Homo sapiens: one gene and its partners. Each later gene encodes a partner of the first gene's protein in a complex. Each region holds a gene or a part of one and is shown in the gene's direction. Other genes may lie near its edges. The genes, in order: GNB1, CRHR1, ADGRD1 and GPR21.

Region 1 (7,071 bases):
CAAGATCACACCACTGCACTCCAGCCTGGGCAACAGAGTGAGACTCCATCTCAAAAAAAGAAAAAAAAAAAAAATATATATATATGTATATATATACCCACAAACATGCGCATTGCACTCCCGCCTGGGTGACGGATGGAGACTCTGCCTCAAAAAACAAAACAAAACACAAATAAAGCTACATGAGAGGCCAGGCACCGTGGTTCACGCCTATAATCCCAGCACTTTGGGAGGCTAAGGCGGGTGGATCACCTGAGGTCAGGAGTTTGAGACCAGCCTGCCCAATATGGTGAAACCCTGTCTCTGCCAAAAATACAAAAGTTAACTAGGCTTCATGGTGGGTGCCTGTAATCCCAGCTACTCAGGAGGCTGAGGCAGGATAATCGCTTGAACCCAGGAGGCAGAGGTTGCAGTGAGCCAAGATTGCACCACTGCACTCCAACCTGGGTGACAGAGTGAGACTCTGTCTCAAAAAAACAAACAAAAAAGAAAACTACATGCAAGGCCCACAATGATTACTTGTTATGTATGTATGTATTAATGTATCAGATGTACATTTGTAATATGTTTATCAATATATTTGTACTAAAAGGCAACTTTTTTTTTTTTTTTTTTTTTTTGAGACTGGGTCTCACTCTGTCGTCCAGGCTAGAATGCAGTGGTGCGATCCTAGCTTACTGAAGCCTTGAACTGCTGTGCTCAAGCAATCCTCCTGCCTCAGCCTCCTGAGTAGCTGGTACCACAGGTGCACATCACTGTGCCCAGCTAATTTTTAAAAAATATTTTTTGTGGGCCGGGCGCGGTGGCTCAGGCCTGTAATCCCAGCACTTTGGGAGGCTGAGGTGGGCGGATCACGAGGTCAGGAGATCGAGACCATCCTGGCTAACTCAATGAAACCCTGTCTCAACTAAAAATACAAAAAATAAGCCAGGCGCGGTGGCAGGTGCCTGTAGTCCCAGCTATTTGGGAGGCTGAGGCAGGAGAATGGCATGAACCCAGGAGGCAGAGCTTGCAGTTAGCCGAGATCCTCCAGCCTGGGTGACAGAGCGAGACTCCATCTCAAAAAATATATATATATATTTTTTTGTGGAGACAGGGTCTCCCTTTGTTGCCCATGTTGGTTTCAAACTCCTGGACTTAACCAATCCTCTTATCTCAGCCTCCCAAAGTGCTGGGGTTACAGGCATGAGCCACCACCCTCCCTCCTTTGAGTAAAATGAAGGGCATTAGGTGTTTTGATTTTTGACAGCTACTTTCAGGGTCCTGGAGCCTGTTAGCTTGCTTCCTGGCCCTTGCCTCTATGTTCTAGGTGAGTGGCACCTCAGATAATTGATTTTTGAGTAGGTAAAGGCACTACTAGGCAACGTGAACCCAGCTTTCCAACAGCTCCCTGACCCGGGACTAGGAGGCATGTCTTCTCTCACCTTCTGGAGGATCAGTGGACAGCTTACGTGTCCCTAATCCCTCTGGAAGTCAGCAGTTATTAAGCTCTCTGACCGGGAGACCTCTGTAAAGGTGATCCTCCTAATCTAGGAGGATGAGCTGCTTTAGATCAGCTCTGATACTCGACAGAAAGTCTCAGAAGGGCTGGGCAGAAATAAAGCTAGAGTGGGAACATGATACCATTACGTAGAAATAATTTTAAATGTTTAATATGTTGATGACAACCTGGATTGAGAAGTTTGCTTTAAGAATTGCAACTGAAGGCTGGGTGCGGTGGCTTACGCCTGTAATCCCAGCCGAGGCAGGCAGATTGAGCTCAGGAGTTCGAGACCAGCATGGCAAAACCCTGTCTCTACTAAAAATACAAAAAAGTAGCCAGGCATGGTGGTGCACACCTGTAATTCCAGCTAATGGGAAGGCTGACGCACGAGAATTGCTTGCATCTGGGAGGCAGAGGTTGCAGCGAGCTCCAGCCTGGGTGACAGAGTGAGACTCTCTCTCAAAAAAAAAAAAAAAAAAAAAATTGCATCTGAAAAATAATAGGATGGGAGCCTGCACTTAGTTTTTAGTTCTGTGATAAATTTTGTAATAAAGTGCAGGTGAAAAGGTTTTTATTTGTTCTTAAACTCATTGACACCTGTATCAAAACATCTAGTTTGATATTAAAAGTGTCAGAGTTATCAACAAAACTTGAGAGAGCGTTACTCCAGCTTTAGGTCAGCTTTAAGAAGCCACATATGTTCACAGCTGAAATAGTTAAAACCTGTGTTTTGAGGCGCTGTGGCTTATGTCTGTAATCCCAACACTTTGGGAGGCCAAGGTGGGCGGATCACTTGAGGCCAGGAGTTGGAGACCAGCCTGGGTAACATGGGGAAACCCCATCTCTACTAAAAATACAAAAATTAGCCAGGTGTGGTGGCACGTACCTGTAATCCCAGCTACTTGGGAGGCTGAGGCATGAGAATCACTTGAACCCAGGAGATAGAGGTTGCAGTGAGCTGAGATCACACCACTGCACTCCAGCCTGGGTGACAGAGCGAGACTCTGTCTCAAACAAACAAACAAACAAAAACAAACAAACAAAAAACCTTGCGTTTGATAGAAACTTTAAAATTAAAAATCCTTATACTATCATTTACCGTACTGACAGATATCCCTGCATCAAACAGTGGAACCTTCTTGCTCTTCCTTGAAAACAGCATTCTGTGCTACAGGGTTCCTTAGGACCTCTCATAAGCAACTGTGGTTCCCAGGAGTTACCTTTCACCCACCTTACTTGCCTGCTAAGGTGAAATTCTTTTGCTCCTTATTCATATTCTCCTTTGTAGTATGGAGCTCCTTTTCAACATGTGGATTCCGAACTGAGCACAGTTGCCAGAGCAAGGAAATAGTTATGAAAAAATTCATGGTCGGGCGCAGTGGCTCAACGCTTGTAATACCAAAACGTTGGGAGGCCGAGGTGGGCGGATCACCTGAGGGTCGGGAGTTCGAGACCAGCCTGATTAACGTGGAGAAACCCCGTCTCTACTAAAAATACAAAATTAGCTGGCTGTGGTGGCGCGTGTCTGTAATCCCAGCTACTTTGGAGGCTGAGGCAGGAAAATTGCTCAAATCTGGGAAGTGGAGGTTGCGGTGAGCCGACGCACCATTGCACTCCAGCCTGGGCAACAAAAGCAAAACTCCATCTCAAAAACAAAAAAAAGAGGCCGGGCGTGGTGGCTCCCGCCTGTAATCCCAGCACTTTGGGAGGCTGAGGTGGGCAGATCACGAGGTCAGGAGATCGAGACCATCCTGGCTAACATGGTGAGACCCTGTCTCTGCTAAAAATACAAAAAGAATTAGCTGGGCGTGATGGTGGGCGCCTGTAGTCCCAGCTACTCGGGAGACTGGGGCAGGAGAATGGCATGAACCCCGGAGGCGGAGCTTGCAGTGAGCCGAGATGGCGCCACTGCACTGCAGCCTGGGCCACGGAGCGAGACTCCGTCTCAAAAAAAAAAAAGAAAAAAAGAAAAAATTCGTGATAGTTACTGGTCTCTGCTCCCGGACCATGCGCAGTGGTGCTGTTGTTTACCAAGCAGGTGAGGAGGGAACGCCTCCTTTGGTTTCTAGGAGACCTTGATTCCAATTTTAGCTCAGTCTGGGAAATTTCATGGGGTATTTTGGGTGAGAAATGTTTCATGAATTTGGAATGTCTAAAAGTGGTTTGTTCTTTCTGTTTGTTTTTTTTTTTTTTTTTTTTTTTTTTTTTTCAGTCAGGATCTCGCTCTGTTGCCCAGGCTAGAGTGCAGTGGCGCAATCTTGGCTCACTGCAACCCCCGCCTCCTGGGTTCAAGCAGTTTTCCCACCTCAGCCTCCTGAGTAGCTAGGATTACAGGCATGCACTACCATACCCAGCTATTTTTTTGTGTTTTTGTAGTGGAGACGGGATTTTACCATGCTAGCATGAGGCCATGCTGGTCTCAAACTCCTGTGATCCACCTACCTTGGCCTCCCAAAGTGTTGGGATTAAAGACATGAGCCTCTAATTTGATTTGTAATGAAACCAAACAGAAACACTTATGAAATGATGTCAGCCTGTCTCAGCTGACAAAGGGAATGGGTGCCAGGGGTGATGTGGCCTGCATTCGGTTGGGGCCAGGCATCTCCACTCTCAACTGTGGTCTGTGACAGTGTTTTTGTTCATGCTTTGAAGTTGGTCTGACATTTAGAGCCTTCCTTTCCTTTCTTTCTTTCTTTCTTGAAACAGAGTCTCACTCTGTTGCCCAGGCTGGTGTCCAGTGGCATGATTGTGGCTCACTGTAACCTCCGCTTCCTAGGTTCAAGCGATTCTTCTGCCTCAGCCTCCCGAGTAGCTGGGATTACAGAGACGCACTACCATGCCCGGCTAATTTTTGTATTTTTAATAGAGACAGGGTTTCGCCATGCTGGCCAGGCTGGTCTTGAACTCCTGACCTCATGTGATCTGCCCACCTCAGCCTCCCAAAGTGCTGGGATTACAAACGTGAGCAACTGTGCCCGACCAGAGATTTTTTTTCTTATAAATAAGTGGCTTTGTCTGAAGCACATGTAACATGGGAGCACATAAGCCACCAGAGTCTGGGTTTTAGTCTGTTGCTCTTGTACACTTTCTGTGTTGTGCGGTACTGATAGGTTTGCTTTTGTCTGTCCCTCCAGGCTTCTCGTCAGTGCCTCGCAGGATGGTAAACTTATCATCTGGGACAGCTACACCACCAACAAGGTAGGGACTGGAGGATTCCCTTCCTTGAAAAACCAACCCAGGAAACAGGGTTTTAAGCTCTGGATTCATTTTGTTAAATCACGTAATACAGGATAGGGAAGGCAGCAGCGGCAAGCTCTGTTTGTTAGTAGTGAAGTTGCGCAGGTGAGATAGAAGCTGAGTCACGTGCCACCTGTCACGGTCTCTTCCTCTGGACCAGGCACAGTTGTGCTGTTGTCCGTCATCTCCTTACCAAGCTGGTGGGAGCTAAGGACCTTCTGTGTTTCTAGGAGACCTCAATTCCAGTTTTAGCAGAGTCTGGGAAGTTTCATGTTTTATTTATAGAGTGCAGAAGTATCACTTTTCATTCAGTTACAAGTTTTTAGAAGAGATCATCTGAAAGACATCATACTTTAAAGTGTAATTTATGTTATTTTCAAGACTTAATCCAAAGTGTATTGTTTTGAATAAAAAGTATTGTCATTGGTCCAAACATGTATGTAAAAGATGTAATTCAGTTTATTTTACTAAAGAATACTAAATGTGTATAAATGATTGCATTAATTACAGCAGATCTAAAACAGTGGGAGAGATGTGGCAGGGTAGATTGTAGGAATGTCCATTTTGGTTATTCCATAAAAATCTTTTGTTTTCGGCTGGGCGCCGTGGCTCACACCTGTAATTCCAGCATTTTGGGAGGCTGAAGCAGGTGGATCACCTGAGGTCAGGAGTTTGAGACCAGCCTAGCCAACATGGTGAAACCTCGTCTCTACTAAAAATACAAAAAATTAGCCAGGAGTGGTGGCAGGCGCCTGTAATCCCAGCTACTCAGGAGGCTGAAGCAGGAGAATTGCTTGAGCCCAGGAGGCAGAGGTTGCAGTGAGCCTAGATCACGCCACTGCACTCAAACCTGGGCAACAAGAGCGAAACTCCATCTCGAAAAAAAAATTTTTTGTTTTCAGATGAGTTCATAGCCATTTGACAGGATAATGCAGTGTTTTCCTTCCAATACGTGTGGGTTTTTTTGTGTTTTTGAGACGGAGCATTGCTCTTACCGCCCTGGCTGGAGTGCAGTGGCGTGATCTCTGCTCACTGCAGCCTCCACCCCCCTGGTTCAAGCGACTCTCCTGCTTCAGCCTCCTTGAGTAGCTGGGATTACAGGCGCCCACCACCACACCCAGCTAATTTTTGTATTTTAGCACAGACAGGGTTTCACCAATTTGAGGCCAGGCTGGTCTCGAATTCCTGACCTCAGGTGATCCACCCGCCTTAGCCTCCCAAAGTGCTAGGATTACAGGCATGAGCCACCGCACCCGGCCTGTTTGTTTTCTTTTGAGACGGAGTCTCGCTCTGTTGCCCAGGCTGGAGTGCAGTGGCGTGATCTCAGCTCACTGCAACCTCCGCCTCCCGGGTTCAAGTGATTCTCCTGCCCCAGTCACTCAAGTAGCTGAAACTACAGGCATGCGCCATCACGCCCAGCTAATTTTGGTATATTTAGTAGAGACATGGGGTTTCACCATGTTGGCTAAGCTGGTCTTGAACTCCTGACCTCAGGTGATCTGCCCGACTTAGCCTCCCAAAGTGCTGGGATTACAGGCGTGAGTGACCGCACCCGGCCTAATGTGGTTTTGATGAGTGGGCAGCACTACTGTTAAGACTCCACCTAATCATAAGTTGTGACTTCAGTAAAACTGGACTGTGTGGATTGAATTTGAATCCCATGTGCAGCACTGGACTTCTCATTAAGTATGCTTCACCTGAGTGGCCACATATGGGAATCGCTCTCTAGATAATTTTGGCTCTTATTTTGTTCTGTTACCTCCTTTGCAGTGAAAGTTGGAGATGAGAAAATCCTGGTGTCAGTGTTGTTTTTGAACATAAAGTTGTTTGCATCATCTGTCTTTCTGTCATTAGGTCCACGCCATCCCTCTGCGCTCCTCCTGGGTCATGACCTGTGCATATGCCCCTTCTGGGAACTATGTGGCCTGCGGTGGCCTGGATAACATTTGCTCCATTTACAATCTGAAAACTCGTGAGGGGAACGTGCGCGTGAGTCGTGAGCTGGCAGGACACACAGGTACCTGTCCTTGTTCATAAGCTTCAAGTGACACAAGCTGTTTACCTGGGGTACATTATATGCTTTGGATACTCACTTTTTATCAATCATTTTTTAATTAATTAATTAATTATTTTTTTTGAGGCGGAGTCTCGCTCTGTCACCCAGGCTGGAGTGCGGTGGCGTGATCTCGGCTCACTGCACGCTCCGCCTCCTGGGTGTTCACGCCATTCCCCTGCCTCAGCCTCCTGAGTAGCTGGGACTACAGGCGCCCACCACCACGCCCAGCTAATTTCTTTTTTGTATTTTTAGTAGAGACAGGGTTTCACCGTGTTAGCCAGGATGGTCTCGATCT
Region 2 (7,720 bases), on another chromosome or scaffold:
ATCTTGAGGGCCAGGACCCTGTTATATTTATCTTTATTAGCCTCAGTGTCCAACAGTGACTGGTACCTAGTTGCTCCTCATTAAATGTTTGTTGAATGAATGCACAGATGAATGGAGTAATTAATACAATATCCCCCAATGTTCATGGGATTTTAAAGAGGCCACTTTCCTAGCCTCATGCTTCACAAACATTCCAGACCAGTGCTACTCCAAGCATGATCTACAGACCGGCACCTGTCTGCAAACTGTGTTGCCAGTTTATGACCTGGTAAGTGCAGAAATTGAGCATAAGCATTTAGACTTTTTTTTTTTTTTTTTTTTTTTTGGAGTGAGAGTTTTGCTCTTGTCACCCAGGCTGGTGTGCAATGGCGTGATCTCAGCGCACTACAACCTACGCCTCCTGGGTTCAAGCGATTCTCCTGCCTCAGCCTCCCAAGTAGCTGGGATTACAGGCATGCGCCACCATGCCCAGCTAATTTTATATTTTTAGTAGAGATGGGGTTTCTCCATGTTGGTCAGGCTGGTCTCGAACTCCCAACCTCAGGTGATCTGCCTGCCTGGGCCTCCCAAAGTGCTGGGATTATAGGCGTGAGCCATGGCACCCGACCCATGGCTCATATTTAATCTCCACAACTATTGCTATCATCCTATTTTTCAGGGGGAACTGAGGCTTATTGAAGTTAAGCAACTCCCCAAGGTCCTAGAGAGCAGTGGTAGGGCAGAGGTGGTGACCCAAGCACTTTGATCCACAGCTCACGCCTCAGCCACATCACTGGCAGAGAGTCAAGGGACTCAACAGAAACATTCATGCTAACTTCTCGGGTTCTGGAAAGCTCTATGCAGGAGGTGATGTTTGTTCTGAGCCTTGAAGAAGGCATAATGGGGAGGGGCATTCCAAGGCAGAGGCACACAGGAGGCAACCGCGTGAGGGGAGTCTGGTGAGGTTGGGCCGGGTGCGGTGGCTGGTTTCAAACTCCTGACTTCAGGTGATCCACCCTTCTCAGCCTCCCAAAGTGCTGGGATTACAGGTGTGAGCCACTGCACCTAGCTACATTTTGACATTTTTAAGCCATTAGACAGAATAGTTTTATGTCCATTTGATGTGCTAGTGTTTAAAACAGGGCTTTCATTTTGTCTTTTTTTCTTTCTTTCTTTCTTTCTTTTTTTCTTTTTTTTTTTGACTGAGTCTCACTCTGTTGCCCAGGCTGGAGTGCTGTGGCAGGATCTGGGTTCACTGCAACCTCCTCCTCCCAGGTTCCAGCGATTCTCCTGCCTCAGCCTCCCAAGTAGCTGGGATTACAGGCTCGTGCCACTATGCCCGGCTAATTTTTGTACTTTTAGTAGGGATAGGGTTTCACCATGTTGGCCAGGCTAGTCTCAAACTCCTGACCTCAAGTGATCCACCTGCCTTGGCCTCCCAAAGTACTGGGATTACAGGCAATGAGCCACCACATCTGGCCTTTTATTGCATTTTTCTAATAATTCATTCCCGCAGTGTTTTGCAATCGCATTGGCCTGTGACAGATTAGAAATTTTAAAATACAGAACCAGTTCTTTGCCACAGTTGTCTGAGAAGTATGGTTCCAGACCAGCAACCTCCCGGGGATGGTTAAGCCAGTGGAACCCCACAGGTAGGAAGTGCCTATTCAGCCCTGCCTCCCTGGGTCTCACCCATCATTACATCAAATCTGTCTCTCCTACTGTTGGGAAGGACATGTGATTGTCTTTTATTCCTGTTTGGAATCCTCACATTTCTCCTGTCTTCCAAATCTGGCAGATTAAATGAATGAAAGCTGATTCTGCTGCTGGCTGGACAGGAAGGGGTGAGAAGGCAAGGGAGGGATGGGATGAGAAGAGAGTTTGGAAAAGGCCATCCTGGGAAAAGAATGCTGGAATGGAGTAGGAGCCTATCCTGAGGAGGGTGTGCAGAGGCTGCTCTGGCTGGGGCTGAGGGAAGGAAGGGTGTAGGAGGGAGGGACAGGGCAGACACTAGCACCTTCACCAAGCCCAGCAGATGAGAGCCAGGCCCTTGAAGGTGAAAGGAAGTAGTTTCAGGACAAATGAAAGGGGATATTGAACCTTTTTACAGAAGGAATGTTAAACGCCAAACTTTCATAACCCCCCTGAGGCTGCCAAGGCCAAAACTATAAATAAGTAGGTCGAGGAATTAGGCAGAAGCCTCCTCCCCTGACCTGTCCGTCAGCGGGATGTGGTGGGGTGGAGGTTAAGTCAGTGAAATCAACACAGACAGGATGAAATGAGCTATCTGTAGACGCCACTTCAGAAAGCGAGAAGGTCTGACTCCTGGGCAAAAAAGTCAGGAAGAGCAAGACTTGATTGCAGTCCAATCAATGGCATTAGCATATTTAAAGATCATGTCAAGGGGAGGATAATGGGGCTCAGAGAGGCAAAATTTGATGGTGTTTATTAAGCAGAGAGAAACACAGAAGCTGGAGCCGTCTAGTCCTTAGAGAGTGTGCTCCAAGGTGGGACCAGGGAGGGAGCAAGGCCTTGGCTGGGCCTGGGCAAAGCTACCAGAGGACCAACCGGCTTCCTCTCCTCTGATTCCACAGCCTACTGCTGCTGGTGAATTTCTGATCAAGAATTCTGCTCCCCACAAAGAACTGCCTAGAGGGTGGGACCAAGCCACCCCTCACACTTGAGCATCCAGTCCACTCCATCGTGATGATGATGATGATCATAGTATTGGTGACTACAGCTAACCCTCATTAAGCTCTCACTATGTGCCAGGCTCCGTTCCAAGCTCTTTACAAATACCAACTCCTTCAAACTCCCCAACCACCCTCAGAAGTAGCGTTTCTACCCCGATTTTATAGATGAGAAAATTGAGGCATTGTTAAATAACTCTCCAAGTTTATACAGCTTGTAAGTGGAAAAGCCAAGATTCAAACTCAGGCCATCTGACTCCAGAACCTGCACATCAGACTGCCCCGCACTTAACTGTTGTTGGTAACAGTTAGTTGTCCATCTGCTTAGCATGTCCATCCCTTCTGGGGTTGGCTGGGGCAAGTCAGGGCCCAACTCGGCACAGCCAGCTCCGGAGCACTAACCTAATGGGGGTTTTGCAAGACTCGGGACTGTGTGCTTCACCTGGAAAGTGCCAGGTGTGTGGATAAGCCATGTGAGCAGCTGGCTTCCTGGGCAATGCCCCTCCCCACTTCAGTGTCCCAGGCCCCTTTAGGGCCCAGCCCTCCAGGCACTGTGAGCTGGGAATGAGGTGAAGGAGGACTAGGCTTACCCTCTGTGTGCCTCCATTTTCTCACCAGTAAACTGTGTGTGTTGGATCTTACGATCTTCTAAAATAACTCCAGCTCCAAATGAAGGCCAGTGGACCCATGAACACGCTGGCTCTTGCCCAGTGTGCTGAGAAGAGGGCAGGAGGGAGGAGTAGGGTGGGCACGGCAGGGCACAGGGTGCAGGGCAGGTGGGTTCAGTTTGATTTCAAAGCCGACTGCCCGCCGCCCCAGGTGCTCTGGTGTACCCAATAGGGGCTGCATTGGCCAGGCGGCCTAGGCTCTGCGGGTGGAGTGAAGATTTCTCTACCTCCCAGTTTCTCCCTTTTCAGCTCTGGTAGGAGAGAGGAAGAGTGAAGAGGAAGTCAAAAGTTCTGTTCATCTGGAAGGGCTGGGAGTTGCTTCCTGGGATGGGGAGCTCCGAAGCCAATTCAGAAGACGGCCCCGGGGTCTGGCGGGGAGGCCCACCGCTGCCCAGAGGGCTCGGCCGGCCGGGAGGGGGCGCTGTGTCCTCCCCACGCCCTGCCCGCGGGCTCCTAGCAGCGTTCGCCGCGCTGCAACGCAATGCGCGCCCGGCTTTCCCCTGGGCAGCGTTCAGTGCCCGCTTGTCCTGCAGGGCACCGCCGTCTCCCTTTCATCCTGGGGCTCCCAGGTCCAAAGGGTTCCCAGATCCAGCCTCTTGCCTGAACCAAAGTGGCCAGGCACTCAGTTTGTAAGATGAACAAATGAAGGAAAGAAGGAACGAATGAATAAGGGCTCATCTTGCAGAGCGTTCGCGTCTCAGCGCGCACCAGGCACATCAGTGCCAAAGGTGCTGGGGGTCGGGCCCAGCGCCCGGCGCGGCTGGAATGGGGGCGGCGAGGAGCTCCTCCTAGCCAGCCGCAGGGCGGGAACTGCCCAAACGCAGGTCGCAGCCTCACTGGGTTCCGCGGCGGCTCCGCTCAGTAGGGACCGCCCTGTTCCCTAGCCCCCAATAGCCTCGCCCTCATAAATTCACCTGAGCACCCTGGCCCAAGTCACCCCAGATCCCTGGGACTTCCCAGGCCCCGACCTCGGCCGGGCGGGAGGCTGATCCTTTACCGCGGCCCCCTTCCCCCATTCCCGGCTTCTCCCCGGGCTGCGGCGGCCGCCACTGCTGCCAGCGCGCCCCGAGGACTGCCGCAAACCCCGGGCGCAGGGAAAGGGGATCCTGGCGGCGGGACACAGAGAGCGGGCCGGGGGAAGGGGAGGGAACGGAGGAGGCGAGGAGGAGCTGGGAGGGAGCCGAGGGGCGAGGCGCGGAGGAGGGACCGAAGGGGAGCGGAGGGGAGAGGGAGGGGGAGGAAGGGGAGGGGACGAGCTGGGCGAGGGGGCGGGGAGCCGAGGCGAGGAGCGGCGCGGACCGTGGGGGAGGTGGCGGGGGCGAGGCCGGCAAGAGGCGGCCGCGGGCCGGGCTGCGTCGGGAAACGGCGGCCAGACTTCCCCGGGAAGGGGCGAGCGAGAGCCGGGCCGGGCCGGGCCGGGCCGCGGGGCCGGGAAGCGCCGAGCCGGGCATCTCCTCACCAGGCAGCGACCGAGGAGCCCGGCCGCCCACCCCGTGCCGCCCGAGCCCGCAGCCGCCCGCCGGTCCCTCTGGGATGTCCGTAGGACCCGGGCATTCAGGACGGTAGCCGAGCGAGCCCGAGGATGGGAGGGCACCCGCAGCTCCGTCTCGTCAAGGTAACAGCCCGCCGGCCATCCCTCGAGCGCTGGCGCCCCCGGCCCCTGGCGGACGCGGGACGGGGCTGGGCTGTGGGTGTGATGGGGGCGGGGGCGCTGGGAGAGCCGTGCTTAGGTCGGGGAAGGCTGGGCTCCGGGGCAGCCTAACTCTCTGGACCTTTGGAGCCAGGGTTGGGTAGGCAGGGGGAGACTCAGGTGAGAAAAGAAATCGTGGCGAAGCCGCCGGGATGTTGGCGGAGGAGGGGGTCCGCCCACCCGGGTAGCCGGCTCCGCGCCAAGAATCGCTCTAGGCTCTCGGGCAGACGCCTAGGGGAGGGGAGGTTCCACCTCCCACGCCCTTCCTGCAGACCTCGGCCCCGGGACTGGAGACTCTGAAGCGGGGTTCCCACCTCGCCCCAGCGCCCCCAAACAGCTCCCCGACTCCGCACGCCCCCGCCCTAGTCTTGGGAGCGCGTCCTGCCCCTTCCCCTCCGCGGCGAGCTGCGAGTCCGGAGAGATGAATGCCGCCCGCGCCTGCGAGCCCTTGATCAATATCGCAGTCTCGGGGGAGGAGACGGTGCCTCTGGCGGCAGTTCCTGTTCCCCGACCGCGGCTGGGAGCGCGACGCTCGTTCTCCGAGCCTGGGCACCCGCGATCCCCGCGCTGCGCGGCCGACCCTGCGACGCGGATCGGGCGCTGGAGTTTAGGAAAGTAGCCAGACCGCACGTCCAGCGTCTGCCCGCTGAAGTTCGTGGGCGGTGGGGGCGGCCCGCGGGTTGTGTGAGCCAGGGAAGGGCCGGGAGGCCGGCAGTCCGGCCCGCCGCTCGTGTCAGGCGTCACTTGCAGCCCCAAGCGCTTTCCAGAGCGTTTTGGTTTTGCAGGGTATAGGCGCGCCCGCTGCAGCCGGCCGGAGAGGCGGGTGGGCCTCTGCGCTGCTGCCGGGACACCCCGCTTCGCGCCAGTCTGGGCATCGCCTCACCCGGGGCTCGGGACTCCGCAGGGTCCGCTCCAGCCACAAACATAGACACCAGCTTGACCCGGCTCAGGGCATTCAGAGCGATTACATTCAAGAGACTTCGGTGGATTTGGGGGAGGGGTGCGGATTGGCGGAATTTCATTTTTCCATCAGTTATTAAACCAACTGTACGTATACCGGCTTACCAAGTGGTTTGAGTTAAACCACCAAGATTTTTAAATGCAGCAGCTGCTGCTTCCTTAGTTGAGACGTTACAAGTTACTGAGATTTTTCTCTAATCCTGCCCCTCCCCAAATATTTATAAATTGATTCTTAAAATGATCAAGGGTTGGTCTTACTGAACCCACATCCCCTCCCCCATCCGTTACCTGAGGGCTAGGGATGAACTCAGATTATTTTCTGGGCGTTCGAGGAGACAGACAGGTGAGGAAGGTAGAAGAAAAACATCCAGAGAGGTCGAGTAGTTGGCACTGAATGGGAATAGTTTCCAAAAGGCTCGCGTGTACCGAAGCCTGGTCTAAATGCACAAACCAGTTAGACCAAATTCAGTCTTTTAAATGGATTCAAAGAACTGAACTGCGGGTGTTTTCTTTTCTTTTTTTTTTTTTCAGGTTTACGCGGAAATAGATCAATGTTCTTTTTCTGGCCTTTCATAGAATTGTGTGCAAATCTCTGTTTAGAATGATCATGTTTTCCTTAAAAAAGTCTTTTTATTTCCTTTGTTCCTACTAGATGGTGGGGTGTTTGCCCTTTATGCCTGGCCTAATAAACTCAGTAGGCATTCAATAAATTCCAGATGAATGTGGGGCAGTGAGTGAATGGCCAGCGAATGCTGGTTTCAAACGTTGGTTACAATTAAATAGTTGCTTTTCTTCTTTTATTTATGTAGCATGTACAATTCACTGGGCATTATTCTACCTGCTTTGCAAATATTAAGTCATTTAGTCCTCCTAACAGCCCTAGGAAGTAGGAATTATTCCTGAGACACAGAGAGGCTAAGTAACTGGTTCAAGGTCACACAGCCAGTGAGTAGTGAAGTCAGAATTCAAACCCAGACACTCTGATAAAAGGCTTTGTTTTGTTTGCTTTTACCAGAAAATATCCTTTTTTTTTTTTTTTTTTTTCAAGACAGGGTCCCACTCTGTCGCCCAGGTTGGAGTGTAATGGTGTGATCATGGCTCACTGAAGCCTCAACCTCCCTAGGCTCTGGTGATCCTCCCACCCCAGCCTCCAGAATAGCTGGGACCACAGGCATGCACCACCACACCCAGCTAATCTTTGTATTTTTTGTAGAGATGGGGTTTCCCCATATTGCCCTGGCTGGTCTCAAACTCCTGGGCTCAAGCGATCAGCCAGCCTCGGCCTCCCAAAGTGCTAGGATTACAGGCATGAGCCACCATGCCCGGCCATTACCAGAAAATATTCGAAGCCACCTAAATCTCACTCTAGAGCTCAGCCAGATGAGAGCTCAGGTAGTTTTGTCAGCATGAGAGTACAAATCTAGGGGATTTAGGGTTAATCCCAAATCCAGCTCCATCCCCAACAAGTCAGCCAGTGTTGGGAAAGGGTCCACTCTGGGGCCTATATTGTGGGCCTCACACTATAACAGTTACAGAGTCCTGGGGGAAAATGTGTGTGAATGGGGAGAGACAGGGTGTGTGAAAGTGTGTGTGTGAGTGGGGAGAGACGATGTGTGTACAAGTGGCCATGAGTCAGGAGAAGACAGACAAGACATTGTCTCTATCCCCAGGGAGGGGCAGGGGCCTGAGCACCTCGGAGTCAGCCACACACCCACTGCATCTCCTCGTAGGGA
Region 3 (7,071 bases), on another chromosome or scaffold:
CTCTGACAAGAGCCATGGGCCACAGGAGGAAGCACGTGGCGCCCTCCTGCACGTGAGCAGCTGGGAGGCTGCCCTTCCAGGCCTGTGGCTTAGGAGCCCGGAGCCTCCTGGAGCGCAGGGTCACATGTGTCTGAGCTTGAGGCCCCGACTTCAGAACCGAGGGGGCGCCGTCTGGATTGTGCGGTCGGTGAACTGCGGCTTCGGTTCTATCCTTTGTGGCCCTGCAGCCGCTTAATCCCCAGGTGTGTTCTGTTCTGCCTCATTCCCACAAGGTGTTGGGACCCAGCAGACACGGGTGCTGGCGATCACCACCGTGTCCATTTAGAGAGCTTTCCTGAGGCCCACAGTGTGCAGGCGGCAGCCATTGTGCGGGGACTGGGAGGGTTGTGGCCTCAGGCGGGGGCGGTAGCCAGCTCTTCCCTAGCACTACTTTGTGCGGGGACTGGGAGGGTCGTGGCCTCAGGCCGGGGCGGTAACCAGCTCTTCCCTAGCTGCTCCAGCACTTTATGTTTGTAAATTCATGGAGTCCTTGCGGCCACTGTGGGAATGGAGAGGGGTCATTATTTTCATTTCACAGCCGAGTGTCACATGGCCCAGATTGTCAGCCAGGACGTGGCCCAGCTGGGACTTGAACCCGGGAGGTCTGGCTCTGGGGCTGACTGTTAGTCTGCAGCCCTGTGTATTGCAGTGTAGACAGGAGGCTCAGCGCCTGCCCGGGCCAGGCAGCCACAGTCTGGAGACTGTGGCTGAGGGAGCCTCAGTGTTCTGTAGGGCACCTCGGGGCACCGGACATGCACGCACAGAACCAGGGCTGCAACCCCAGCACCGGCCTCTGTCGGTGGCAGCAACAGACATTTGGGCTGGGAGGCAGGCTTGGTGGTCAGCACCACACTCACAGGGGACCAGCTGTGCACCCACCTGGGCCCTCTGCAGCTTCAGGCTCCGATGGGGTGCCTGGGCCTGCTGCTGACGCCTCTGCTCTGCTCCCCGCAGCTTGCACGCGGACACCAGGTGGCGCTGTCGTCTATCAGCTATGTGGGCTGCTCCCTCTCCGTGCTCTGCCTGGTGGCCACGCTGGTCACCTTCGCCGTGCTGTCGTGAGTCCCCTTTTCTAATCCACCCAACAGTCTCTCGGCCCCTGCCTGCACCCAGATCTCAAGATGGAAGAGACACGGGAGAGGGGAGGGGCTGTGGAGGTAAGAGCACCAGGCTTAGCTGGAAAGGTCTGGAAAGGCCCCCAGCCCAGGCACAGGAATTCTGGTGGAACCCGAGCCAGGCAAAAGGGGATGGCCATGGGCCTGGGGACACCTCAGCCCTGTGCTCAGATATTCACTCTCGCTCCCACGTTCCTCAGCACAGGCGTGTGGTCGGCTTTGAGGGCCCGACTGTGCCCAAGAGAGATGAGAACATGCTTGGATGGGGGCTGGACAATAACCAAGTAAACAAAAGCGAGAACAAACATCTTCACTGTGATCACGCCACGAGGCAGCAGGGCAGAGAGCGAGGGGTGCAGCTAGGTCCCAGCAGTGGTCAGGAAGCTTACGCTGAGGGAGACATTTGGGCCGCCATGCGGGGACCTGGGAGAGGGTTTACTGCATGGGAACAGCTATGCAAAGGCCCCACAGCTGGAATAAGCTGGGGCTTTGAGAAGCAGGAACATGAGCTGGGAAAGAAAGGAACTCAGAGCAGAGCCATGGCCCAGGGTCAGACTGTGTAGGGCTGTGTGGGCATGGAAGGAGCTGGGGTCAGATCCAAGAGCAATAGGGAGCCATCGATGGTCCACAGCAGGGAGTGACAGCAACCCCTCTGGCTGCTCTTGGAGGAATGGATATAGGGACTTCGTGGGGCCAGGGAGCCCAGCCTGGGGGACTGGGTCGGCGCAGGGCCCAGGCCTCACACCCTGCCTCTGTCCTCAGCTCCGTGAGCACCATCCGGAACCAGCGCTACCACATCCACGCCAACCTGTCCTTCGCCGTGCTGGTGGCCCAGGTCCTGCTGCTCATTAGTTTCCGCCTCGAGCCGGGCACGGTGAGTGGGCGCAGCTCCGTGTTCCTGCGCTGTCCTTCCCTTGCCTCCTCGGATGTCACCGGGTGGCACCTTCTGCTAGCTTTTTCAACTCAAATTTCAGAACCCATCTCCCCAGACAACCAGGGCTGTGGTTTTCTCGGGGGAAGCAGAGATCGTGACGTGCATGAGCTGGTTTCTGTGCTGCACGCCAGCCTCGGGTAAAGCTGCCGCTGCCGCCACCCACTCACACTGCCTAGCACCAGCTACGCGCGAGGCACCATGACAAGGGCTTGCATCTGTGAAGCCATGTCACCCTCTAACCAGCTGTCATCCTCTCAGCCTACAGATAAAGGAATTGGGGCACAGGGCTCACAGTCCTTGGCCAAGCTGACGGCCTGGTGTGGGCAGACCAAGACTCTTATTGGCTGCAGGCTGTGCCCTTCATCAGCTGCTTGACAGCAAACAGTTGTGCCACCTCTGTTCAGCGAAGCAGACCTGCAGACCTAGATGCCATCTTTCCCTGCCCTTTGCATGGAGTGGGGGGTTCTCTGGGGCCCTAAGAAGTCTTAGACCTCACAGAAGGCAAAGAGCTGAGACTCTCTGAAGTGACCCAGCAGTGGAATGATGTGGGCTTGTAAGCTAGTTGATGGAAGAGAAAAACAGAGGGCTGCCTGCTCCATGTGTGGGAGGAAAAAGGGAGCTGGTTCTGGCAGAAGCTCTTAGGAACCCAGCAGGATAAGCCTGTGGTCTTAGGGTGCAATCAGGATTGGCCAACAGAAGATGAACGCTTTATCCCATGCCTAGCGGGTCAGCAGAGCCTCTCCTCCTCACTGCCCAGCAGAGCCCTTTGTCCCCATGCATGTCCTGGGGCTGCTGCCTATGGACAGACCCACCTTCATGTGGCAGCAAGCACCTCCCTCACAGGGCACCCCACCTCAGACTCGGGAGCATCTGAGAAGTTCCTGGATGCACCGTGGAATGGATGGGGTGTGCACTGGCCTCATGTTCTCCTGCTGGACGCTTCTCAGGCTCCGGTGTGAAACCTCCCATGAGGATTCCTTACAGTGCAGATTTTGGTTTAGGAGCTCTGGGTGGAGCTCAGAATGCTGTATTTCTATCAATCATTCAGGTGATGCTGACGCTGCCTGTTCAAGTCCATACTGGGGAGCAAGGTCCCACTGTGTGCTGGCAGCAGGAGGGGAGGCAGGTCTGCAGCAGCTCCAGGTGTCTATAATCCCAGCTGGTGGCCCTAGGGGACTGGGAGAGCATCTTTCCTCCAGAACCCTGTGTCTCAATCCCAGGGAAGGGCTCTGATGGGTCCCGCTTTCCCAGAGACCTGTGTCTGAATCCCAGGGAAGGGCTCTGATGGGTCCCGCTCTCCCAGAGACCTGTGTCTGAATCCCAGGGAAGGGCTCTGATGGGTCCTGCTTTCCCAGAGACCTGTGTCTGAATCCCAGCGAAGGGCTCTGATGGGTCCCGCTCTCCCAGAGACCTGTGGCTAAATCCCAGGGAAGGGCTCTGATGGGTCCCGCTCTCCCAGAGACCCGTGTCTAAATCGCAGGGAAGGGCTCTGATGGGTCCTGCTCTCCCAGAGACCCGTGTCTAAATCCCAGGGAAGGGCTCTGATGGGTCCCGCTCTCCCAGAGACCCGTGTCTGAATCCCAGGGAAGGGCTCTGATGGGTCCCGCTCTCCCAGAGACCTGGGTCAGAATCCCAGGGAAGGGCTCCAGTTGGTCCTGTTTGAGTGATATGCCTACAGGGTAAACCTTTGTGCCCAGATGGGAGAGGATGATTGTAATGGTTGGTCCCACCAGAGCCTCTGGGGTAGGAAGGGGCTGCTCCCCAAGGAAAAGGGGCAGCTGGTCCTGGAAGACACAGGGCCAGGGGTTGCTGAGCCAACAAAAATAATAGGTATGTCTTATTTTGTATCTAGATATAACAGATCATGATGACAAGAAACACATTTAGTGGCTTGTACATTTCTTCTCTGAGAACTAACTGCCTTGGGCGTATCTGAAGGACAGAACTTGGAGCGCCAGCAGAGCTGGGTTGTCCTGGGGTCCTTGGTTTGTGTTCCTTCCTGGGCTCTGGTTTCCTGGACCTTTTATCTAGAGCTAAGGGACACGCCCTGGCTGTTCCCAGCACCTGGACTCACAGGGAGCAGAGGAGTGGAGCCCCAGGAGGATCTGAGGCTGCACTGTGCAGGGCCCAACTCTCTCCGTCCTGGGCACCTGGGGCCTCCAGGCCCCAGGCAAGGAATGGAGAGGTTCCCAAGGCCCTGCCTTTCTGTCCCTGAGCCCTATTGAGGGGAAGCCTATGGAGCAGCATGGTCGCCTGAGCCCCTTTCAGTTCTGGGTAACTACAACTTGGAAGCTGCAGTCAATTTAGTTAGAACTAGAAGTCCCAGCATGTAGGGTTCAGCCACATGGCAGGCGGCAGGCTCCACACCTCTCTGGGAGCCACGTGGCTTCCAAAGTTCCTTGCTCCAGTCCTCACTTGAAGGGAGGGAAACTCTTCCATAGTCCCTGCCTTAGCCCCAGAATCCACCCTGATTGGACCAGGTGAGTCATGTGCCCATCCCTGAGCCAATCCTGTTGCAAGGAATGGATAGTTTTGCTGATTGGTTGGGCCTGAGTCCTGTGCCCTCTCCTGAACCAATCACCATCCCTGGGGGCAACATGGTGCTGTAATTGGCTAGCCCTGAGTCAAGCGCTACACCCAAATCCCTGGGCTTGAGCAACAGGAAGATACCCTGGGAAGAAACATGGTCACATGACCAAAAGACCACCCAGGACATGGATACTGGGAGGCTGGGATCATAGCCACGCCCAGGGCCCACCCCAGAGCTGTCTCACTTCCCATCTCTGGTTAAATCCTAGACCCCCTGCCAAGTGATGGCCGTGCTCCTACACTACTTCTTCCTGAGTGCCTTCGCATGGATGCTGGTGGAGGGGCTGCACCTCTACAGCATGGTGATCAAGGTCTTTGGGTCGGAGGACAGCAAGCACCGTTACTACTATGGGATGGGATGGGGTAGGTGGGGCAGGGCAGGTGGGATGGCGGGGCGGGAGGGACAGGAAGAGACAGGTGGGGATGGGGCAGGTAGGACAGGATGAGACAGGTGGAAGTGGGGACAGAAGGGGCAGGTGGGGATGGGGGGAGGTGGGAATGGGGTTTGATCGGATGGGACAGGGAAAGTCAGATGTGCTTTCATCTTCATATTATCCTTCTTGGTGCCTCCTAGAGACCCAAATAGGAAGGAGAATCCACTGGCTAATCAAAGGCAAAAAGTCCCCATCACTTGGAAACATTTCCAACATTCCTGACTTGGTTTATCAATTTTGGTGATCTTTTCAAAGAACCAACTTTTGGTTTGATTTTCTTTTTTGTTTTTCTATTATCCGTTTCTTTAATTTCTGCTTCAATCTTCATTATTTCCTTTCTTTTGCTTATTTTAGCTTTAGTTTCTTCTTCTTTTCCAGTGTGTCGAAGTGAAAGTTGAGGTTACTGAGTTGAGATTTTCTTTTTTAATATAGGCATGTATAGTTATATATTTCCCTCTACTCACTGCTTTAGCTGCATCCTGTATGTTTTGTGTCTTCATTTTAAATTCATCTCAAAGTATTTTCAAATTTATTTAATTTTTATTTGACCCATTGATTATTTATGTTGTTTAATTTGTACATATTCATGAGTTTCTCACTTTTTTCTATTATTGATGTCTAATTTTATTTCATTGTGGAAAGACAACATATTTTGTATGACTTCAGTCCTTTTAACTGTATTAGGGTTTGTTTTATGCCTTAGTAAGTATCTATCCTGGAAAGTGTTCCATATGCCCTTGAGAAGAATGTATATTCTGCTGTTGGATGGAGTGGTCTACAGATACCTGTTAGGCCTAAGTTGGTTTATAGTGTTGTTCAAGTCTTCTATTTCATCGCTGATCCTTTTTCTAGTTGTTCTGTCCATTACTGAAGTATTGAAGTCACCACTTGTTGTATTGTGTATTTCTCCCTTCAATTTGTTGATGTTGTTTCCTGTTGCTTGGGGTTCTGTTTATACTTACATCTTTCTGATGAGTTGACCCTTTTACATTTATAAAACATCTCTTCATCTCTAGTATTATGTTTTGTTTTAAAGTCTGTTCGTCCCATATGATTAGTAGACTCGCTCCAGCTTTCTTGCAGTTGCTGTTTGCAGAGCATATATATTTTCCATCCTTTTACTTTCCACTTATTTGTATCTTTGAACCTAAGGTATATCTCCTGTAAACAGAATACAACTGGATTTTTAAAAAATTGTCTGGCAATTTCTGCCTTTTGGCTGGGTCATTTAATCCTTTCCCATGTAATGTTATGACACATAGGGTGGATTCACATCAACAATTTTTCTCTTTGTTTTCTATATGTCTACTATCTGTTTTGTTTCTCTATTCTTCCTTTACTTCTTTCTTTTGAATTAAGTGAATATTTCCTAGTGTAACACTTTAATTCTCTTAATGATTTTTTTCACTTTTTTTTTTTGGTTATTTTCTTAGCGATTGACCTAATGCTTACTATATACATCTTAGCATATTAGAATCTATTCCAAATTTATACTAAATTATAAGATATAAACATTATTTTTATATAGGCATATTCTCTTTTCCTTTGTTCTCTGATTATTGCTATACATGTTACATCTGTATAAGGCACAATTCAATAATACATTTTTGTAACTATTTCTTTAATCTTGTATCTTTTAAAGAAGCTGGGATAAAAGGAGAGCAAGTACATATTTATAGAGTTACATTAACCTTCTGATTTCCATTTCTGGTTCTCTGTATTTTTTCCTGTGAATTTGAGTTTCCATCTGGTGGTGTTGCTTGCTATGTGTATGTATGTTTCTGTGTGTGTTAAGATTACTTTTTGGGGTCATTTGCTTTCAGCCTGGAGAACTTTCTTTGTTATTTCTTGTAAGGCATGTCTGCTAGCAACAGATTCATTTGTTGTTTATCTGGAAATCCCTTTATTTCACCTTCATTTTTAAAAAGTAGTTTTTCTAGATATAAGATTCTTTTTTGCT
Region 4 (7,155 bases), on another chromosome or scaffold:
AGAATAATTGCAGCGAGACCCGTTAATAATTCAGGCAAGAGATAATTTCAACTTGGATTGGGGTGTAGTGGCAAAGGGATGGGGAAAAAGATGCTATTTAAGAGGATTTCAGAGGTAGAGTCCTTGGCACTCACTTGATGACTGAATGAATGTGGGAGATGAGGGCGAGGGAGGAATAAAAGATGAGTCAAAGTATCTCAAATCATTTTTGGAATGACAGTTACATAAATAAACTCACATCAGCTGCACTAAAATAATATGTTAATTAATCAATGTTTAAAGCTCATTTTTTTTTTTTACTTAATAAAGTTTTATTTTTCCAAATGTAGAGTTGCTTGGACCTGTTCATGCATCTTCACCAGCAGCTGGAGCATCTCTGCCCTTGGTATTTCTGGTGTAAATTACTTGAGCTCTGTGCTTTGAAACCAGTTTGATAAGTCCTTTACTAAGGAGCTCCAGAAGGGCTGCCCTGGCCAGGGAACCTCAAATCTTCAGTCTCTTAGAGACCACAACTGGAGTTATAAGTTTATAGTTGGGAACTTCCTTACAGAGTTTGTCATATGTAGCTTTGTCAAACAAGACAAGGTATTGAGCTTGTCCCTAACTTTGCCTTTGGACCATTTCTTCTTTTTGGCCTTGCCCCCGGGTTTGTTCACTGGGTCTTTGTCTTTCTTGGCTGACTTTCCAGTGTCTGTCTTCTTCTTGTAGTCCTTGGGTGGCATCGTGAAGCTCGGAGAGCAGTGGCGAACACTGCAGCCTTGCTAAGATGTCAGACAAAAAGTGAAGCTCATTTTTACCAAATAATAAGTGGTAGTTGACACTAATGCCCAGAGGTGAAGCTTAGGAATTTGAAGAACTGAGATAATTTATCATCTACAAGTAGTTAAGTCTCTGAATAGGTTGGGAGAAAAAGAAATATAATTTGAACAGGTCTTTTCCTTTTTTTGTTACATTTCATTTCTCGTTCTGCTTTTCTTTTTAAGCCTGTCATTTTGTTATTTTAATTATTTTGGCTTTTAAAGTTGTTTTAATTTCATTAGGTTGAACCATATAGAAATTGGCGTGTTTGCAGGTCAGAAAGTATTTAGCTAGCAATGAAATGGTTAAGTATCGGTAAGTTCGTAATTATATTCTTGTTCTGTAAGAGGTTTTAACTGACATTTTGGGAGTCCATTTTGAGTTAGATTGAGTACCAAAGACTGTCTGAAGGAATGTTGCTCTGATGGCATAAGAACAAGTGGAACAGAGCCCCATGAAGTAGACAACTTCAACCCAGCATCATTCTATCTTGCTAAATCAATATGGTTCTGAGAGTATATAGAAATTGGAAAATTCAGAAAATATAGAAAGCTATAAAGAAGAAAGATTTTTTAATGAATGTTATCCCACCATCCAATAATAGTGTTGATTTTTAATGTATTTCCTTTTAGTCATATATATATAGAAAGTTACTCAGCCTTCAAAGTAAATATAGAGAGAATATATCATGAGACTGCATTATTTTATTTTTTATTGTATTTTTTAATCAGCATATAACATACATACTTATGAGGTATATAAGGATGTTTTGATACATATAGTATATACTGATCAGATCATGGTAATTGTGCACATACCCATCATCTCTAACATTTATCAACATTTATCATTTCTCTGTGTTGGGAACATTCAGTAACCTCCTTCTAGCTATTTGAAACTACATAGTATTAACTATAGTCTTCCTAGAGTGGTATGGAACACTAGAATGAGTCTATGTTATGGTTAAAGACCAAATGTACATGTGGATTTCTGTAAGGATACAAATTTATAGAGCCTCCCCAAGTTGTTAATAAATTGTGTCTTTTGAAGAAAATGTTTTTCTTTAATCCAAAGCAAAACATTTAATTCCTGATTGATTCAGTTAAATGTGGCTATTAGTCTTTTTTTTTTAAAGTTTCTTAAATGAATATTTTGATTTTAGCTCCTAGAGTGGTTTCACTAAAATAGAAACAAAGTTGAAAGAACTGTTACTGTACTAATGGCAGTAATGTAACAGCTTGTAGTTTTGTTGCAATTTTATAAATTTTGAATTCTTTCAAATTTTCAGCCATTGTATTGTCTGTTTTTATCAGCGTAACTGTCTTGTTTTATACATGGGAAACCACAGAGAGAATAAGTTTCATGCCCAAATTCACAAGTAGTAGTAGAAAAGCCTAGACTTTTGACTTTGGTGAACACTTTTTCTGTTTATTGAAATACAGCAGTAACTCTCAAAAATCACTCCTTTATTCCGTATTTATTAAGGTGCTCAGTAAATATGGTTTAAAAATAAAGTCTATGGCAAGTGTATAGAAGTAATCTGATTTGGCTGGAGGGCAGGTTATTTGGGGGAAGTAAAACAGTTGAGATCAGACTAGAAAGGCAGTAAAGGAGCCATTGACTCTTGAACAATGGGGTACAATAATAAAATGTACATTTTGGATATTTAACCAGACAGAAAAGAAAAAATTAGAAAAATGAACAAAACTGTAAGTTTAGGTGGTAATCATCTTCTATGGTAAGTGTATTAAAAATTGAAAGGAGGAAATGCATTTGAGAACTATTGTGGAAATACATTTTCAGGACTTGGTGACTCAGAACTAAGTGCTTTGAGGGAGAGAGTGGTCAAGGTGATTGATTCCTAAGTTTCATACCGGAGTGCCTGGGAAAATGTTGGAAAAATACAGAGGCTTATTTGGTGGGAAAAAGGTTTTTGATTTTAGACATGCTGTGGTTGAAATCTCTACAGGACATCTACAGGACATCTTCCATCTACTGGTGGAAAATGTGTGACTAGCAGGCAAATTGTAGATGGAAAAGGGAGCTTAGGAGTGAAGTCAGGGCTGGAGACCTAGGCAGAGAAATTATTTATGTTGAGGGAATAATTGACGCCATGTCATCATTCCTTCTTTTCAGCTACCTTCAGTGCTTTGTATATGCATAGCCTCAATGTATTTGAGTAATGTGTGACAGCACTGTATTCAGATAGCTGTTGTATGACCTAGAACTGTATAGCCTCAGTAAGAGCAGGCCCTTCAGGATTCAGAGGAGCCCAGCCTTAAGCATTTCAACATGATGGGCAGGAAAACACTGGCTCTTAAGGAAGGCTACTTTAGTTGTAGGAGCAGAAAGTGAGTAAAGTTATATACCCCCTCTGTGCTAGGTGTTGGTAAGCCTTTTTTATATACTTTATTTCTCAACAACCCTGTGAAGTAAGGAGTGTTGTTCTCATTTTACAGATGATGAAACAGAGGCTTAAGAGAGGATAAGTAATATTAGAGCAAGAATTTGAACCTGATTATTGTTCCTTCGATGCTATTGGTCTTTTTACTGTGCCACACACTTCGCTCTGTTTCCCAATAAGACCTGTCAAATATTACTATCAGGATTACGGTTAAATAGGTTTTTTATTTTGGGGCTATGGCCGCGTCTGGGACTGGCCAGACAACTGCTGCTGCTTCAGATTTAAAATGTAATTCATCGCATTCTGATTATGGGTGGCCATTTGTCTGTAATTAGAAAGCATGTGTATAAAATGAATAAAAATGAAAGTTGGATCACATGTTTTTACTCAGTTGCCTACCTCTTGGAATGCTTTCAAATGCCGGCATTTGTTTATTGTCTTTTATTCTGCTGGATACTTTCAATTAATCCTTCTAAATAAAGATACTAAAATTACACATTTTCATAGCACCCAACTCTGTTAGCTGAAAATTGTCATCATTTATGACATTACCAGGAAAACCACAATATAATATGATACAGTTTGCATTGTTTTAAATAGGCAGAAGCAAGATTGTATATTCTAAGATACAAAGGCTTATTTGTACCATGAAACTTCCTGTAATATCCATGCCTGAGTAGAAGAAGGTACATTTACTTTTCTATCTTCTGTTTGTATTCTTGTTTACTGCTCAGCAAATTAGAAGCAAGAAATGCATCTCAAAATTATAGCGTAGTGTCAAATATGGGAACAGTGTAATTTATCTGTGCTATTTGTGTAGTATTCAGAATGGGAGATACTTTATTTTTCTCTTGAAAAAGTGATCTTAAAGTTTCTTGGCCAATATTCAGTGAATCATGAGAGACAAAATTAATGGTGAATAGCCTTCTAGCTAGAACTTCTTGTGCAGCTGAATTATGATTCTCAGTTGCCATACGCCATACACTTAAAGGAAGTTAACATACTTCCTTTCTTTAATATTGCTCTTTGTTCTTTGGGAAAATGCCGTGAGAAAATAGAAATTACCCCTCTGGTAGTGTGTTTCAGTCTAATTCCTGACACCCTGTTCTGTTACTACCCCTTCTCCTTGCTAGCACCCTGAATTCTGCTTATCTACTAAAAGGGGGATTCCAGACAGACGAGGAAACAGCCTTCAAATGGTGCACTGCAGGCATAGCAAGCCATTCCCACACTGTGCAGTCTGGAAATCGGGGCACCTCTCTGACGATGAATTCCAATTAGTTGCTAAAGATGCCAGAGTGTGTGCACGTACAGGCTTTTTCTTTCCCCTCCCCCTTTCTTCCTTTTCCCAAGCCCCCTCTTCTCCCTGTTTCCCCTCCTACTCCTTTATCTCCTCCCTCCGTGTCTTAGTTCTGCAGTACGCGGGTTGAAGCACATTCCTGCTTTGCAAGGCTTTCTGCTAAGGATGTATTGTGGCTTTTGTTTGGATTGCAGCATGCAGAATTACAGGTAACATTCTGAAATTGAACTAAACAGTAAATTCTGTTGAAATGTTTTCAAAGAGGCAAAATATTATATTGGAATCAATGAAGAAAGTAAATTATCTTGGCTAATTTTATTAGTGGTAATTGTAGTGAAAGGTTTTCCTAAATATTATAAGCAAATTCCTTTTCTCCCCCGTCTCAAATGAAAGGAAATGGGGGTAAATTAATCTGACTGTGATTGGTTTTGTTTTATGCTGATCTTGAAAGCTTGATGTTGCTGCTGCTCCTCTATACAGTACAGATCAGTTGTGTGGGGTGCTATTGAGGGTAGCCGTGAATAGTGGTGCCAGTAGGGGTGGAGCGGGAGGGATGATGCCAGCCTGAGCTAGCCAGGTTCTTTGATTAGGGCATTGGATGTGAAATGTAAAATGCTCTCTCCTTTTCTTCTATCAGCTGTTCAGAGGAGACTCATTACAACTCCTGCTGAAGCTCCTAATCTTCTTCCCTTCTCTTCTACCCTTTCCCCCTACCCTCACTTGGCCTGAAGACGTTCTCCCCAGAGTTTACCTTGCTCCCCTGGTGCTATGTGTATGGTGAACCTGGCACTATGGCCGCGTCTGGGACTGGCCAGACAACTGCTGCTGGCTCTCCTTATTCCAGGAAGGATTTAAAGGGGAATTGCACTGCAGGCAATGCACCAGAGCAGCAGCATCAGGAGCTTGGGGAGTAAGGCTCCTCTGGCATTATTACACACATGCAAAGCTGACCGCAATGACAGCAGCTGCTTCTTTGAACTGTTGGCAGCAGCCAAGCGGCAGCATGAAGTGACAGATCACTCCTGAGCTCAAGATGAACTCCACCTTGGATGGTAATCAGAGCAGCCACCCTTTTTGCCTCTTGGCATTTGGCTATTTGGAAACTGTCAATTTTTGCCTTTTGGAAGTATTGATTATTGTCTTTCTAACTGTATTGATTATTTCTGGCAACATCATTGTGATTTTTGTATTTCACTGTGCACCTTTGTTGAACCATCACACTACAAGTTATTTTATCCAGACTATGGCATATGCTGACCTTTTTGTTGGGGTGAGCTGCGTGGTCCCTTCTTTATCACTCCTCCATCACCCCCTTCCAGTAGAGGAGTCCTTGACTTGCCAGATATTTGGTTTTGTAGTATCAGTTCTGAAGAGCGTCTCCATGGCTTCTCTGGCCTGTATCAGCATTGATAGATACATTGCCATTACTAAACCTTTAACCTATAATACTCTGGTTACACCCTGGAGACTACGCCTGTGTATTTTCCTGATTTGGCTATACTCGACCCTGGTCTTCCTGCCTTCCTTTTTCCACTGGGGCAAACCTGGATATCATGGAGATGTGTTTCAGTGGTGTGCGGAGTCCTGGCACACCGACTCCTACTTCACCCTGTTCATCGTGATGATGTTATATGCCCCAGCAGCCCTTATTGTCTGCTTCACCTATTTCAACATCTTCCGCATCTGCCAACAGCACACAAAGGATATCAGCGAAAGGCAAGCCCGCTTCAGCAGCCAGAGTGGGGAGACTGGGGAAGTGCAGGCCTGTCCTGATAAGCGCTATGCCATGGTCCTGTTTCGAATCACTAGTGTATTTTACATCCTCTGGTTGCCATATATCATCTACTTCTTGTTGGAAAGCTCCACTGGCCACAGCAACCGCTTCGCATCCTTCTTGACCACCTGGCTTGCTATTAGTAACAGTTTCTGCAACTGTGTAATTTATAGTCTCTCCAACAGTGTATTCCAAAGAGGACTAAAGCGCCTCTCAGGGGCTATGTGTACTTCTTGTGCAAGTCAGACTACAGCCAACGACCCTTACACAGTTAGAAGCAAAGGCCCTCTTAATGGATGTCATATCTGAAGTGGCTCAGTTACGGGGTTCCCGTGTGTGTGTGTGTGTGTGTGTGTGTGTGTGTGTGTGTGTGTGTATTTTATCTCTAAGTATTCCTAATTCACTAGGAAATCTGGGACAGAATACTTTGACTCTAAACAATAGCATACAAATTATTCGTATGGATACCTTCTAAGTTTGTAGAAATGGTTTTCAAAAGTGCTTGTGAATTAGAAGACTCAAGATCATGAAGACAAATTGCTCTTGCTCTCAATTTTTGAAATGTCTTGGAAATGACTACAGTTCTCAGATTTAAAATGAATAAAGCCATATCTAACACCTCTTTCCAGCTGGCATGACTGAACCTGAGTGTGAAAAGCGTCAGCATTTTAAAAAGTCATCACTTTCTTGTCACTTTCTGGGCTCTTTCCAGCTATTTGGGCTTCATATGCAATTGATTTCTTCTAACGGAATAGTAAAATATAAATGAAAAGGTTTTAGAAATTACTTTTTATGTATGCCAAAGCATAACTACACTGCAAGTTTCAACACTGTCATTTAGAAAGCCAAATGTTCTGTGTTTTATTCTCTTGAGAGAAT

Evidence for each region.
Region 2: the proteins of GNB1 (region 1) and CRHR1 are in contact, whole or in part, in a cryo-EM structure (PDB 6PB0), measured with the Homo sapiens proteins. Residues at the interface, in NP_001269468.1 of Homo sapiens: Arg42, Arg46, Arg52, Phe292, Val307, Ala309, Gly310, His311, Asp312, Phe335; in NP_004373.2 of Homo sapiens: Arg145, Ser146, Lys376, Arg380, Asp383, Lys384, Ser386.
Region 3: the proteins of GNB1 (region 1) and ADGRD1 are in contact, whole or in part, in a cryo-EM structure (PDB 7EPT), measured with the Homo sapiens proteins. Residues at the interface, in NP_001269468.1 of Homo sapiens: Arg52, Asp291, Val307, Ala309, Gly310, His311, Asp312, Asp333, Phe335; in NP_942122.2 of Homo sapiens: Ser593 (codon at 1,918), Val594 (codon at 1,921), Ser595 (codon at 1,924), Arg598 (codon at 1,933), His819, Lys822, Val823, Leu826.
Region 4: the proteins of GNB1 (region 1) and GPR21 are in contact, whole or in part, in a cryo-EM structure (PDB 8HJ1), measured with the Homo sapiens proteins. Residues at the interface, in NP_001269468.1 of Homo sapiens: Gln44, Arg46, Thr50, Arg52, Ala309, Gly310, His311, Asp312, Asp333, Phe335, Lys337; in NP_005285.1 of Homo sapiens: Pro57 (codon at 5,704), Leu58 (codon at 5,707), His61 (codon at 5,716), Arg313 (codon at 6,472), Arg317 (codon at 6,484), Thr324 (codon at 6,505).

Annotation. Positions count from the first base shown.
Region 1 is NC_000001.11:1,804,085-1,811,155, reverse strand, and holds part of GNB1 (guanine nucleotide-binding protein G(I)/G(S)/G(T) subunit beta-1), read left to right. Parts: intron 1-4,617; coding exon 4,618-4,681; intron 4,682-6,574; coding exon 6,575-6,737; intron 6,738-7,071. UniProt on the Homo sapiens protein: Guanine nucleotide-binding proteins (G proteins) are involved as a modulator or transducer in various transmembrane signaling systems.
Region 2 is NC_000017.11:45,779,626-45,787,345, forward strand, and holds the start of CRHR1 (corticotropin-releasing factor receptor 1 isoform 2 precursor), read left to right. Parts: upstream 1-4,694; 5' UTR 4,695-4,919; coding exon 4,920-4,952; intron 4,953-7,720.
Region 3 is NC_000012.12:131,103,838-131,110,908, forward strand, and holds part of ADGRD1 (adhesion G-protein coupled receptor D1 isoform 1 precursor), read left to right. Parts: intron 1-993; coding exon 994-1,097; intron 1,098-1,916; coding exon 1,917-2,028; intron 2,029-4,886; coding exon 4,887-5,040; intron 5,041-7,071. UniProt on the Homo sapiens protein: Adhesion G-protein coupled receptor (aGPCR) for androgen hormone 5alpha-dihydrotestosterone (5alpha-DHT), also named 17beta-hydroxy-5alpha-androstan-3-one, the most potent hormone among androgens. Also activated by methenolone drug.
Region 4 is NC_000009.12:123,029,032-123,036,186, forward strand, and holds GPR21 (probable G-protein coupled receptor 21), read left to right. Parts: upstream 1-4,635; 5' UTR 4,636-4,711; intron 4,712-5,139; 5' UTR 5,140-5,535; coding exon 5,536-6,585; 3' UTR 6,586-6,634; downstream 6,635-7,155. UniProt on the Homo sapiens protein: Orphan receptor.